2 linked regions of the Homo sapiens genome follow. The protein of the gene in region 1 purifies or fractionates together with the protein of each later gene. This does not show direct contact. Each region holds a gene or a part of one and is shown on either strand. Other genes may lie near its edges.

Evidence for each region. Proteins that work in one complex are often made in the same cells at the same time.
Region 2: the proteins of CCZ1B (region 1) and FAM167A purify together in Homo sapiens (co-immunoprecipitation; 2 studies listed by IntAct). This does not show direct contact.

What each region holds. Positions count from the first base shown.
Region 1 is NC_000007.14:6,823,269-6,831,194, forward strand, and holds the start of CCZ1B (vacuolar fusion protein CCZ1 homolog B), read right to left. Parts: upstream 3,008-7,926; 5' UTR 2,930-3,007; coding exon 2,810-2,929; intron 1,470-2,809; coding exon 1,372-1,469; intron 1,281-1,371; coding exon 1,187-1,280; intron 899-1,186; coding exon 821-898; intron 93-820; coding exon 45-92; intron 1-44.
Region 2 is NC_000008.11:11,456,754-11,463,753, forward strand, and holds part of FAM167A (protein FAM167A), read right to left. Parts: intron 1-7,000.

The DNA.
Region 1 (7,926 bases):
GGTAAGTGGTTGGACTCTGAGTTGAGAAAGAACGCCACGCTTACCTTGTACATGCTGTAGCACTGCCGCAGCACCGAGCTATAAACCTTGTCCTGCAGACGCGAAAACACAGCACACAGCTCAGTTCAAGGGAAAAACAATGTCTACTGGATAGATGGCAAAGGTACACTGACTCTTGGCCAAACAGTATAATGTTTATAAACTTCATCCCACAATAGTTGCGTGCTGAAAAAAAGTGTTTGCGTTCTTTTTTTTTTTTTTTTTTTTTGAGATGGAGTCTCGCTCTGTTGTCCAGGCTGGAGCGCAGTGGTACAATCCTGGCTCACTGCAACATTTGCGTCCCCGGTTCAAGCGATTCTCCTGCCTCAGCCTCCTGAGAAGCCGGGATGACAGGTGTGCGCCACCATCCCTGGCCAGTTTTTGTAGTTTTAGTAGAGACAGGGTTCCGCCATATTGGCCAGGCTGGTCTCGAACCCCTGACCTCAAGTAATCTGCCTGCCTTGACCTCCCAAAGTACTAGGATTACAGGTGTGAGCCACTGTTCCCAGCCAGAAGTGTTTAAACTCTAATTTGTCAATCAGTAAGCCTTACTTTAGGAGGGCTTTCAATATAGATGAAGAGTAGAAGGTATTAGTGAGATTGGGTGCATATACATTTTAAAAAGATTGTGCTCATGTAAATGATAAACATAAACCTTTGCTATATACCCCGAGAAACTTCTGCAAAAGCCTCCTAGTTTAAATCCGACCAAGTAAGGCATTCAACATACTCAGCAATACATTTAAAAAAATAAATAAATAAACAAACAATGACACATTACCAACAACTCCTCCTCTTGATATTCAATAACTGGTTTTCCATCTTTACTCTGTTTTTCAATTATAGGATTCCGAACAACCTACAAAGTTTGATAAACTGAAATTATACAATGAATTCATTAGACCATGTTTATTTTGCCTTAATTTAAAAACTTTGAACATGCTACAGCACCAGAAACACAACTTCTTAAAACAGCCCCAAGAATGAATAAAGCAAATAGGAAGAACTTGATTTTAAAATTGCAACCAATTTTATTTTAATTTTACTTGGATGCAACAGCCAGAGAACTTTCCTAAATTCTGAACAGTAAAGATCACCCATAACTTCACCATACAATTTCAGAAAGATACACTGTGTGTGTAAATACCATGACCATCCAGAAATTTTCTTCTGGTTCATTGAAGAACTGTCTGTTCTTCTGTGTATGTAAAGATTTTGCAGGTTTTGATGGGCTAAATGTCCTACAAAGGTTAAAAAAATATGTTTGGGACAATTCTCCAGCAGCAGTTTTAAGAATTCACTGAACGCTAAAGGCACACTTAGAGGTATTACCTTGTAAACTGTACAATAGCTTCACACAATCCGACATTTCTAATCTTCTCATTCTTTTCTACCTCATTTGGATGATAAAATAAAATCTTATTTTCCTCCTGAAACATGAGGAAACAGAAGCACAACATGAATAGAAACATTTCATCTTAGCTATTGAAAACGCTAAGTTCAATGTCGACCTCTTGTGTCACACATGCTAATGACAAAATAAAACAAAAACCGGTTTTAGAAAAACAGGAATTGTAATCCTAGTATTTTCAGAGGCTGAGGCGGGAGGATCACTTGAGCTCAGGAGTTCAAGACCAGCATGGGCAACACAGTGAGACGTCTCTATTATTTAAAATAAGAAGAAGAACAGGAATGATCTCATCATTGTGCAAATACTGCCCACCAGTCAGAAAGGCAATTTCGATAGTCAAGAAGTCACATCTGAAGTAGCACCAGGTAATTTTTATGAAAACTCAAGTCTCCAGGTTTCTTTCCTAGTGCTAATTTGTAATACACCAATGCTTGTAAGAAGTAAAGGTGTGCCCATCTGCAGACACATAGCTCCCTGAAAATTAAATCCAGTCAGTTCCCAGCCATTTGAACTGACAAGTTGTTTTTTTTTTCTTTTTCTGGAGATGGGGTCTGTGCTGCCCAGGCTGTAGTGCAGTGGCGCTATTACAGCTCACCTGCAGCCTCAATCACTTGGGCTCAAGCGATCCTCTGGCCTCAGCCTCCTGAGTAACTGGAAATACAGGTGCGTGCCACCACGCCCGGCTCACTTTTCAATTTTTTTTTTTTTTTTGTAGAGTTGGGGGTCTTGCTATGTTGCCCAGGCTGGTCTGGAACCCCTGGCCTCAAGCAATCCTCCCATCTCGGCCTCCTAAAGTGCTGGGATTACAGGCGTGAGTCACAGCGCCCAGCCTGGACAGTCTTTAACAGAAGTCTGACTTGCTGGAAACAAAACACAGCTCCGGACATCCTTTGAGAAAGTCGCCGTCCCCACCTCAGAAAAACCACACACACACACACACACACACCCCTCCCGAAATTAATTTATTTCCTCATTTGGGCGAAAACTATTACAGGGACCTCCAGGCTTGCATCATTTGAAGGCTAGCGTCTGCCACCCTGGTTCCACGCTTCTAGTTGGGGACTACCCACTTAACAAAGCCAAGTTCAATTTTAATTTCCCAGAACTGACGCAAAGCAAAGCGCAAAGAGCCTCAACCTGGGGTGTGGAGTGATATAGACCCGACGGGGCTTTATTCCATCGACCTAGGACCTGAAGCGGTCCCTGCCTGCTGTCAGGTCCCCGCCGCAGCCCCCTGCCCGGACTCGCACCTGGCACAATGCAGGCTAGGTCAGTGCCCCTCGAGGTGGGCAGAACCACAGGGCCACCTTCCCGGGGAACACCGGCGCCGCCCGCCCGCGCGCCGCCCCCTCCGCATACCTGTCCTTCGCGCGGCCCGAAGCGCGGGTTGTAGATGAAGAAACTCAGCAGCGCCGGCGGGAACTGCTTCTCCTGGGCCGCCCAGGGCCCGCTCCCGGCCCCGGCCGCCGCTGCAGCCATCCCGCCCCGGCCCCCACCTCGGGAGCCTCCCACGGCCCGCCCAGAGACAGCAGCCACCGGCTAAAACACCGCACTTCCGCCTCCGTCGCCACCGCCCCGGAAGCACTCGCCGCAGGCCCGGAAAAAGAATCCGCCTCGCAGCGTCCTCTTCAGGCACCCCCGGGTGGCCTTGTTGTCTGTTTCCTGGCCGAGTTTGTGTTTTGCTGGCTCGCGGAGTTTTCTCCTGGCTACAGGCGAGGGCTGCGCGTTTCAGGAAAAACCGAGCGGGCACTGTTTTTTTGTTGTTGTTGTTTTTTCTGATAGGGTCTCAGTTTGTCATCCAGGCTGGAGTGTAGTGGCGCGATCTCAGCTCACTGCAGCCTCAACGTCCGACACTCAAGCAATCCCCCTGCCTCAGCCTCCCAAGTAGCTAGGATTACAGGCGCGCGCCACCAAGGCCAGTTTTATTTTTTTGTAGAGGTGGGGTCTGTGTTGCCCAGGCTGCTCTCGAACTCCTGGCCTCAAATGGTCTCCCACTTCGGCCTCCCAAAGTGCTCCGATTACAGGCGTGAGACACCACCGCCCAGCCTGTTGTTGTTTTGGTGGTATTGTTTTAAATTTAATTTAGAGACAAGATCTCGCTTTGTCACCCAGGTTGGAGTGCAGTGGTGCCATCATAGCTCACTGCAGCCTCAACTCCTGGGCTCAAGGGATCTTCCCACCTCAGCCTGAGGAGTAGCTGAGACCACAGGCATGCACTACCATGCCCAGATAATTAAAAAATAGATAGATAGATAGTAGAGACAGGGTCTCACTTTGTTGCCCCGGCTGCTCTCTAACTCTTGGCATCAAGGGATCCTCCTGCCTCTGCTACTGGATGGAAGGTCTTGACCGTGGATTGCCCAGGTTCTTGGCTTGTTGAACACAGAACTGAACAAAATGCAATGCACAAAGTAACAAAAGAACAAAGCAACGAAAAGAAACAAAAGAAAAAACCGGAGTAAGGAATAGACAGATTTATTGAAGCGAAAGTACAACTCACAGAGCAGGAGCAAGACAGAGCAAACAGCTCAAGAGCCCCCATTAGGATTTTCATTAAGCTGGAAGAATTAGGTAACGCCCCTAGGTGCCCGTTAGAGGTCTCCGATTGGTTACACCCTCTGAAGGATTGGCCTGTGACCAATCAGAGGCTGAAGTGGAGACGCGCACCCGCCCCCCCGTCAATCAGAAGCTGTCACCCTCCCCCCCGGCCAACCCCCTGTCGTCCGTCAATCAGCCTCTGATTGAGGGAATGAACACGTGGCCTCTATGCTGCCTAATCTTGCCTAGAACTGGCTGCACCTGCTGTTCTTTTGTTTATGCCTTAACCCTTGGTTACCCTCATTCCCTATTCTGCCTCACCTGCCCTCCGAAAGTGCTGGGATTACAGATGTGAGCCACCCACACCAGGCCCATTGTTTTGTTTTTAGTTTATTTAAAAAGTATTTTATTCTAAGACAGCACTTTGCTCTGTTGCCCAGGCTGGAGTGCAGTGGCCAGATCAGACCTCACTGCAGCCTGGAACTCCGGGGCTCAAGTGATCCTCCCACCTCAGCCTCCCGAATAGCTGGGACCACAGGTGCATGCCACCATGGCTGGCTAATTTTTAAATTTTTCGTAGAGCTGGGGTCTCACTATGTTAACCCAGGCTGGTCTCGAACTCCTGGGCTCAAGTGATCCACTGGCCTTGGGCTCTCCAAGTGCTGGGATTGTAGGCATAAGCCCCTGTGCCATGGCAGTTTTTTTTGTAGAAGGAAATGTAGAGACACAAAGGAAGCCTCATTTAGAAATAAACAAGGCTGGCCACGGTGGCTCATAGCTGTAATCCCAGCACTTTGGGAGGCCAAGGTGGGTGGATCACTTGAGGCCCAGAGTTCCAGACCAGCCCCGTCTCTACTAAAATAAAAAAACTAGCCAGGAGTGGTGGCACATGCCTGTGGTTCCAGCTACTTGGGAGGCTTGAGGCAGAAGAATTACTTGAACCCAGTAGGTGGAGGTTGCAGTGAGCCAAGATTGCACCACTACACTCCAGCCTGGGCAACAGAGCAAGACCCTGTCTCAACAAAAAAAAAAAAAAAAAAAAAAGAAAGAAAGAAGAAAAGAAAGAAAAGAAACACACTTAGGGGCAGATGTGCATTCCGTTTGGCCCATTAACATCATCTACAGAGTCCTTGTTTGAGAGACCTCAAGTGACCACTGGATCACCCACACCTACAAAGCTTGCCCCTTCCCCCCATTCCTTCAGCGCAGGTCTGGAGGCAGATGGGGCACCATGTGTGCCACGGGAGCAATATCAGAGGTGGCAGACTCCCCAGAGTGGCTGTTCCTGGACCTTGTCGCCTGGGATTCCCTTGCCTTTGAGTTGTGTGGGTTGTGGCATAGTTGGGATGGCTTGTTACAGTTATGTGGATTCAAGCCTTGGCAGCATATGGTTTGACCAAACTCAAGAAGACTTTGGTTTAGATTGCCTTATCTGTCACATATTAAGTTTGGAAGCAGAACCACTTCCCTTATCCAGCCTGGCAGATAAGGGAAGTGATGAGTTGGAATTTGGACTGGAGACAGATCTGGGTACATATCCACTTTTGCCATTCACCGACTGCACCAATCTCCTTGCACCAAAGAAGAGATAGAGACTCTCTCGTCTGTATCTCTTATTTGGAAAATGGCTAATAGTAAATTCCTGCCAAGTGAGAGTTTCACTTGAAGAGTTAAATGGGACTATGAATGTGCATCAGGTGCCAGCAACTCATCATTATTTCATAAACTGTTGACTTTCCCAATTAGCTTGCTCTAGTGCATGCAGTTATTCCATGAGAAATACATGTTTTGGCTGGGTGTGGTGGCTCATGCCTGTAATCCCAGCACTTTGGGAGGCCGAGGATGGCAGATCACTTGAGGTCAGGAGTTTGAGGGCCAACATGGTGAAACACTGTCTCTACTAAAAAATAAAAATAAATAGCCATGCGTGGTGGCAGGTGCCTATAGTCCCAGCTACTCGGGAGACCGAGGCAGGAGAATTGCTTGAACCCGGGAGGCGGAGGTTGCAGTGAGCTGAGATTGTGCCACTGCACTCCAGCCTGGGTGACAGAGTGAGACTCTGCCTCAGTAAATAAATAAATAAATAAATAAATTAATTAATTAATTAATATAAAGTACAAGGTGCTATATAAGTGAGTGAGATTAATATTTTATAGTATGAGTCACAGTTTCTCCCAGGATACCTCTGTGTCCTTGTACATGTTTGCCTCTCCCTTCCTCCCACATACAATTCATTGCAGGAGGCATCGAAAGAGGGAGATGACAAAAAACAAAATGAAACATCCAGAGATCAAAGAAAAGAACATGCTTTTATGGTTTCAAAGTTAAGGATGCAAGAACGCTTAGACCTCAATGCATCTGCCTCTCCAAACACAGTCCTTGGGTGTGCACGGGTACCAGGCAGGAGTGGTAGTGACGACAGATACCCACATAGGTTTGGAGGTCTCAGAGGAGAGGGTGTGTGTGTCTTTCTCCCTGGGGAAGCTGGGGGAGGTGGTGAGCTTTGCAGAGTTCCCCTCTGGGTCAAGCATGGTTTGGTAACAGTAGAGTAACCACGGAACAGGGGTATCTGGATGAGAAATCCTTATTGTTCAGGAAGAAGCTGAATGACTTACTTGTGCACAGAAGGAATTCAGAGAAAGCCAGTGCTGAGAAGCCTCAAGGTCAGGACCAGGAGGAGGTAGCAGTGGCCCCTCAAGACCACGAGAGTAGAGAGGATTGAGGATGACTCTGTGTTCACTATTCGGACTGAGAATACTCCAGTCCCATCTGGGGCCTCGACTCTCTCCCCTAGCCTATGGTAAGAAGGGAGAAGAGGTTGCTTAATTACCTGACATGATTAAGATTCTGACACCCAGCACAATGGGAATTCAAATCAAGTTCAGTTACAGAAATAGAAGTTAGATGTTTTGCGCAAAGAATTTGCGAACTCAAATTCCAAAGGAATGAGCTGTGGGAAAGACACATTTTGGTGTTGGAAAGGGAGCTCAGTTCCAAGTAGAAAGTGACAGTTCCAACCGGGTGCAGTGACTCATGTCGGTAATCCCAGCAATTTAGGAGGCCAAGGTGGGCAGATCACTTAAGGTCAGGAGATTGAGACCAGCCTGGCCAACATGGTGAAACTGCGTCTCTACTAAAAAAAAAATACAAAAATTAGCCTAGTGTGGTGGCAAGCCCCTGTAATCCCAGCTTCTTGGGAGGCAGAGGCACGAGAATCACTTGAACCTGGGAGTTGGAATTTGCAGTGAGCTGAGATTGTGCCACTGCACTCCAGACTGGGCTACAAAGTGAGACTCTGTCTACAAAAAAAAAAAAAGAAAAAAAAAGTCCCAGTTCCAGGCTAGGTGGTTCTGGACATAGGTTGTCACATATGTCTGTCTCCTCCCTATCAAGGTTATATATATATATATATATATATATATATGCGTGTGTGTATATATATACACACACCACAGACACACACACACACACACACACACACACATATATATATATATATATAGGTTTGAGACAGTCTTGCTCTGTTGCCCAGTTTATAGTGCAGTGGTATGGTCATAGCTCACTGCAGCCCCTAACTCCTGGGCTCAAGCGATCCTCCTGCCTCTGCCTCCTATATAGCTGGTCCTACAGGCACGGGCCACCATGCCCTCCTTCCTATCAAGGAAAGTGAACTTCTTGAGGCCAGGACTCTGTTGGGGCCATCTTCTGGTTCCTGTTGTCTAACACAGTGCCTGCGTCACAGGACACGGTAAATCTGTGTTGAATGAATGAATGGAGGAGGCAGGGGATGGGGAGGAGTGGGCAACAGACGTCAGAGATGGGCTTTCATCCTTCAGAGCTCAGCTACTGCTTATCCTATGAATGGAGCTCAGTCCACAGGCTGATCTGACATTCAGGTGAGTTCTCTGCTCCGCTCAGCACTGAGCTCTAAGAAGCAG
Region 2 (7,000 bases), on another chromosome or scaffold:
GACGTGGGTGGTGCTGGATTAGGGGAGTGCGGCTGGCTAAGGGAAGTGAGTGGGGCTGGGTTAGGGACGTGGGTGGGGCTGGGTTAGGGAAGTGGGCAGGGCTGAGTTAGGGAAGTGAGTTGGGCCCTGGGTTAGGGAAATGGGGGGATTGGGTTCGGGAAGTGGGTGGGGCTGGATTAGGGGTATGAGCGGGGCTGGGTTAGGGAAGTGGGCGGGGCTGGGTTAGGGATGTAGGTGGGGCTGGGTTAGGGAAGTGGGCGGGGCTGGGTTAGGGGTATGGGCGGGGCTGGGTTAAGGAAGTGGGTGGGGCTGGGTTGGGGAAGTGGGCGGGGCTGGGTTGGGGAAATGGGCGGGGCTGGGTTGGGGAAGTGGGCGGGGCTGGGTTAGGGGTGTGGGTGGGATCAGGGCTCCACAGGACAGCGCTCCTGGGGTTTTCTCCAAGCACCCCTGTGGTCTACCCTGCCGGGTAAGCATTCCCTCTGGCACATGTCCAGCCAGGACAGCACTAGCCTTCCCCCTTCCTGGAAGCCTCCTGTTTGCTGCCGGGGTTTCCCCTCCCTGCTGCACACCCTTGTGAGAACTCGGCAGTCTCTTCTGAAGGACATTGATGCTGTGCCACAATGTCATATGCTGGCTGCTTCATGCCTGGTTCTGCTTGAACCTCATCTCCACGCAAACCCCAGCCTGGGCCACAGGATGGAGCCCAGCGCTCGCCTTCCTGGTGCTTCCGGAGCTCATCACTTACTCCGTGATGTTTGTTGGTGTCTGTGTGTCCCACCCTTGAGGATGCCAGCTCCTAGCAGGCAGGGGCTTCCGAATTCTGTTCCTGACTGTGACCCCGGCACTCAGAGCAGTGCCCGGCACACAGCGGGTGCTCAGGAAACTTGCTGAGTAAGAGAGTGGGTACATGAATGAATGAAGAGGACTTTCTGGGCAGTCCATCTGGCCCTTTGTCCTTGTCTTTGGCCCTCACTGGCGAGCTAGGCCCTGCACTGCCTGAAAGCTCATCCGAGGGCTCGCCTCCTCCCTGAAGCCCTCTCACACTCCCCACCTTCCAGGCCACCTTTCTCTGAATTCTCCAGTCACTTGCTTTCCTCATGCTGACTGCACACTGGCCCGCATGACCTTGAACTGTGGGAGTCTGTGGTCCTGTCTTCCTGACCAGACATCAGCTCCTTGAGGGGCAGGACACTGCTGCACCTTTTGTGTCCCGAGCACAGGGCCCTGTAAACAGCAGATGTTCAGTGTGTGCTGATGACGCTGATGCGGTGAAGTCAGCGAACAAAGTCCAGCCAGAGTCGTTCACAGCTCCAGATGACATCTCCCCAGCAGACCTCCCACAGCTTCATGGGTAAGACTTTCAAAGTCAGAATGCTTCTGGTGGCTGAGTCATCTTTCTTGAGTTGAGATGGGGTGGTTTGGGATGCTGGTCTCAACTTTATGTCTCATCCTTCCGCGATAGCCTTATGTTTGAATTTGACTCAGTCTTCAAGCCTGGATCAAACAGCACCTCACTCGACAGTCTTTTGTGCTCTTCCGAATGGAGCTGATGGCTTCCTCCCTTCACACTTGGATCTGAGCACTTTCCTGCCCACTCTCAGTGCAGCAGTGCACCTGCTGGATGGTTTTACTGAGTCACATTTCTGATGTGCCTCTCGGGTGAACAGATCTATCTTTTTCCAGCATCCCTTCTGTGGGCATCACTCCTGTCTAATTTCAGGTGGTTCTGAAGGGACCATGAGTCACAGCACCTGCCCATCACCCCTGCCCCAGGAACACTCACGACACCTAGAAAGAGACGTTCATTTTAGCCCTTACTCTGGCAATAGTGACTGGGCCTGGGGATGTGCAATGGGCCACAAAAGACCAATCAGAATATTTTCATGGGATTTAAACACAGACACTTGGAGAAATAGGGTATTTTCATCAGGAGCAGCTCAGCTGGGAGGATATAAGCTTGGAGTTTCCAGAGTCTGGAGAAAGCCCGTCTGTAGTAAAAAGGGAATAAGCCTGAGGTAAGGCGAACTAAGGGAAAAAAAAAACAGAAAGAGAGAGAAAGAGAGAGCATCCTGACATCTTCTGAGCCCTTAGGCCCAGCAGAACCTAAAGAGCTGAACTTCCCAGTGAAATGCACCAGAAGATTCTCTTGCCATCAAGAGAGGCTGGAACGGCACTGCCCACACTAGCCTGGGCTTCAGGAGGGCGAATTCGCCCCCAGTTCTTCCCCCTGCTGCTCATGGCCACCTGCTGGGTATAACCAGTACAACTTCAACACATACTTTCTGATAATAAAATAAACGCATGAATGACTACTTTTCTCTCTATCACCCATTTCTCTATTTCTCATTTATACAGAAATAAATGAAAATTGTTAGAAGGAGGAGGAAAAGAGGAGACCTTTTTTATTGTGCCAGGCACTGTGCAATATCTAGTTTAGCCCTTGAAATGACCCTGAGGCATGACTGGTATTATCTAGTGTCTCGTATTATCTCTACTGCAGGCAAGGAAACCACAGTTCACAAGCAGGTCAGGGAAGGAACCACCATTCCAGCTCAAGTCTCCCCAACTCCACCATTGTGACCATCTTTCAGGTGGCTCCATTTGCACAGAAGTAACAGGCATGTGAGCTTTATAGTACTTACAAGTCCAGTGTTCCTAGAAACCTCAGGGGCAAATAACACTGAAATATTCCCAAGGCAATGCTTTGTTTTTCTGTAAAATTGTTCTGGGCAGAAGAGGAAGAAGAGACCGAGCGCCTCGGTCTGCAGTGCCAAGCACGTGGGTGCTGTGAGTACAGCTGCTGTGGCAGGAGGGCCTCTTTCCGGGGCTGGGGTCTTAGTCCTTGGGCAGGGCTGGGCAGTGAGGGGACCTCAGCCTAAGGGAAGTTCTGCCATTAACAACCTGTGACGCTGGACAAGTCACACGACTCTTTGGAATTCAACTGGAACAGGGATTCATTTCATTTCTTTTCTTTTTTTGAGACAGAGTTTTGCTCTTCTCACCCAGGCTGGAATGCAGCGGCACGACCTCGGCTTACTGCAAACTCTGCTTCCCAAGGTTCAAGTGATTCTCCTGCCTCAGCCTCCTGAGTAGCTGGGATTACAGGCACCCACCACCACACCCACCACCACACCTGGCTAATTTTTGTATTTTTAGTAGAGACGGGGTTTCACCATATTGGCCAGGCTGGTCTTGAACTCCTGACATCAGGTGATCTGCCTGCCTCGGCCTCCCAAAGTGCTGCGATTACAGGCGTGAGCCACCGCACCAGGCCAGGGACTCATTTCATTTGTCTGCTTGTTTTGGTTGATGGAGGTGGCTCCTGGGCCAGTCCCAGGGACAGCTGTGATGCTGGGGCCACCAGTGTGAGAGGATGGGTACATGGCATGAAACCCACTACAGGGCTCTGGGAGGGGCAGGCGCCCTAGTGGGCTGCACCCGTAGATTGCCCTAACACTCCGGCTTTAGGCAGCCCTCGGTGCCTCCTGCCTGGGGTCCCAGCATTGCCGATGGGAGCGGGAGAAACATTTTGGACAGAGCCAGCCTGGTGTGGAAGAGAAAAGAGTTCCCGACCTGGGAGTCAGCTACTGGGGTCCCATCCCACCCTAAGCCATTGGTTTGGGTGTGATGACCTCCGTGCCCTCTTCCACCCTGACACATGCAGAGTCAGCCCACAGCAGCAGGTAGTGGGACCACCATGTCATGGAGCCACCCCCACGGGGCCAGGGAGTAGAGGCGCCGACTCGCCCACGTTTCCCTGGGGACTGTCTCCCAGCAGAGCCCGGTTTGCAGTGTCCTATGCTAATGGTTGCACTTCAGCTCAGGATAGAAGCTTCCGTTTCCACACCTGGTGCAACAAGAGCAACCACATGCATTTTTTAATCACACTGCATTTGCAAATTTTTTTCCCCACACACACAATGACCTGGGCTAGGGAGGCCTTCCTAAGAATTATACCACAGAGAACTGCACACCAGAGCCATCGAAAGAACTGCCCCAGGTCCCACAGCTCCATGAGTGGCGCTGGCTGCGCTTGCACCCAAGTCTTCTGACTCCGAGTTGAACCCTGCATCTATTGTCTAGGAAACAGGGAAACCTTGCTTGTCTCGCTGGGACATTATGAGAAAAGAATCTATAAAAATACTTAAGACCTTTGCAAATTCAAAGTGCTGGGTCCATGCTGAATAATTGATGGGCTCAGGCTGCTTCAAGCTGACGCACAGTCCTCCTGCAGGAAGGCTGGGAGCGCGGAAACCTTCCTTTTCATTTAGCCCGGTGAAAGAGGCTGCTGAGAAAATTGCCAAGAAATACTGCTTCCCTGTTGGTCAGAAAGAGGCCCTGGCTCCTGGGAGCCACAGATCTAATTTATGGGCTCCCTGCAAGGCGGGGAGAAAGCCCAGGGCCACTGCAGGGAGAGGGGCTCTTGGGACGCCCAGTCGCTGGTGTGTCCCTTCCAAGGCTGCGGGGCTCTGGGAAAGGGCGGCCCTGGCAGGCAGGAAGAGGTGCCTGAGAATCTGACAGTTTGGAGGAGATGGGGAGGGGGAAAGTAGCCATGGGAAAAAAAGAGAAGGATGTGGTTTTCCTCCCGGGAAACGCTCGACAAGGCAGGGATGCCCAGACGGGCTAAGGCAGCCTGCTGCCGCCCCGCCAACCGCCACATGAGACCCAGGGCTTTTCTGGCCAAAGGCCATGGTGGCAGTGGGGATTAGAGGGCAGAAAGTAGACACAGAGTGGCCTTTAAAGCAATCTGCAGAGATGAAAGCAGAATGCAGCGCAGGCCGGTACCCTGGCTATACAAACAGGAAACACTTCCCAGCTGGCTGAAACTCAGACACCAGGGCACAGCTAAGGACACGGGGGATGTGTGCCCTCCCCTGTGGCTTCAGCCCACCAGAGTGGCTCCTAACCAGCTGGCATTGGCCTCAGCCTCCAAACAAGGCAGATCTAGGACTATTTGAATCCACAGGATAATTGGCTCCAAGTTGAAAATAGGCAGAATCAACAAACGCCAGCTCAAGGGGGGATTTGTCCAGATGATCTGATTTCTATTTTACTCTGCAGCACAAGTTCCAAAGCCCAGAGTTTCTAAAAGGCTTCGTAAGGCCTTTCACGGTGTTCCCTGTGCTTATGCCAACTGGGCACCTCCACGTTCGGGCTGGGGGTCCTGACCTCTCAGGGGCTAGAAGGGTCCTTAGGGTTTCCTGGTGTTTGGACGCAGTGGGGTCCCAGTGTGGCCTCAGCCTGGCTTGGACTGCCCAGTGCAGCCTGTAAGTGGCTGCAGGTGCAGCGCTGTGCCTGCACTGGGGTTTGGCAGGGACATATGGCCTGAGTGCCCGCAGGCAGGGCAGAAAATGGGATGTGTGACTTTGCTTCCCTGCCGTGTCAGCTTGCGCTGGAGGTACTTGGCTGCTGAAGCCTCCCGGGTTCACACCTCGCAGAGGAAAGGAATCAGGAGCAGGAGAAAGGGATGGAGCAAGTTAGAACAGGGCAGAGCCGGGTGTCGGGGGACGTGGGTTGGTTGACAGCCAGCCTGCCACTTACTAGTTCTATGACCTTGATCAACAGATTCAACCCTCCTAGGCCTAGGTTCCACATCCATGAAACAGGATTGTAATGGATCGTACCTCACAGTCTTGGAAGGACCAAATGAGATCAAGTTTACGTGAATTTTTAGTTACACCTCTAATACGACTGTCACCTCCTGCTCTTGACTGTGCTTGGCTGTCACTCTCCTTGGTCCATCGAATTGGGAAATGGCTCCTGCACTGCGAAAGTTAACTGAAGCGTGCAGAACAGCATTTTACTGTGAGCTCAGGACTCTACTGCATCAGCAACCTCGCCAGACTGCACGCTCCCTGAGGGCACGGCCTTCACCTTCTGCTTCCTTGGTAGGGTGGTGCATTTGGATCCTAAACTCCTTTGCAGAGATGGTGGGCTGTTCTGTGTGGTTTCATTATGCCAGCTACAACCTAGATGTATTCAAATCAGCAACGCCCACCCCTACCCCACTCGCAGCCACTGCCTCGAAGCAGAAAGCATCTGCTCCAGAGGCAGCAGGGACAGGCACTTCAGCGTCTTTATCTCTGGTCAGCATTGGGCATTTGATGATTAGCAAAGTAAATATTAGAAATGCGTTCTCATTGGTAAAGACAGAGGTATTCAAGATGTGTGGGTTGGCTAAATGAATTCAGAGACACTCTTGACTCAGGAAAGAGCAGGTAAAAGAATCCATGAGAGCTCCAGGGAGGTGTGGTCAGGGCAGCAGAGAGCAGATTGCTGGGCTTCACCGAGCCCACAGGACAGGCTGTATGGACTCCGCTGGACTTGTTTCAGGTAAATATTTGTCCAAAAATGTGTACGTCTGGCAGAATTTGCTCTGAGGCTGCTTTCATTCAAACTTGATAATGAGGCTGGCTTCACCTTCCTCCAAGTTTTCAGTGGCTGCTATCAAACAAATAAACAAAATAGCAGCAGCCACACAACCAAATTTGGGAAGTGCCTTTGTGACTGGAGGGACTTAGGTCAGTTCACGCCTGGCATGGGACTTCCAGGGCGAAGTGCGTGGAGCTGATCACAAGACTAGGGAGGTAGTGTCACTTTCAACTTGATGGTGGACAGTGGGGGCCAGGTCCCTAAGGCAAAGACCCTCATCCAGAACCTTCCTGGGTGGCCACCACCCTAAGCATGAGCCTGCTGACCTAGGGGCTGCTGTGCCCAGCCAGCTCGCAGAGGCTCCGCTGGCTTCCTGGAATGAGGAAACACTGCCCAGCCTTCGAGAAGGCCTGGAACTGTAGCCAGTGCACAAGTCACTGCCTAGGCTCTTTCCATACCTGCCACTGGACCTGGAAAATGGGGTCTGACCTGGGCCTGTCCCTCTAGGGATGCCCAAGGGACAAGCCCTGCGAGGGAGCCCTTGGGCATCTACTGCCAGCTTCCACCTTTGGATCAGGATGCCCTGGAGGGAACTTCCGGCCACACTGAAGAAATGGGGGCTTGGTCC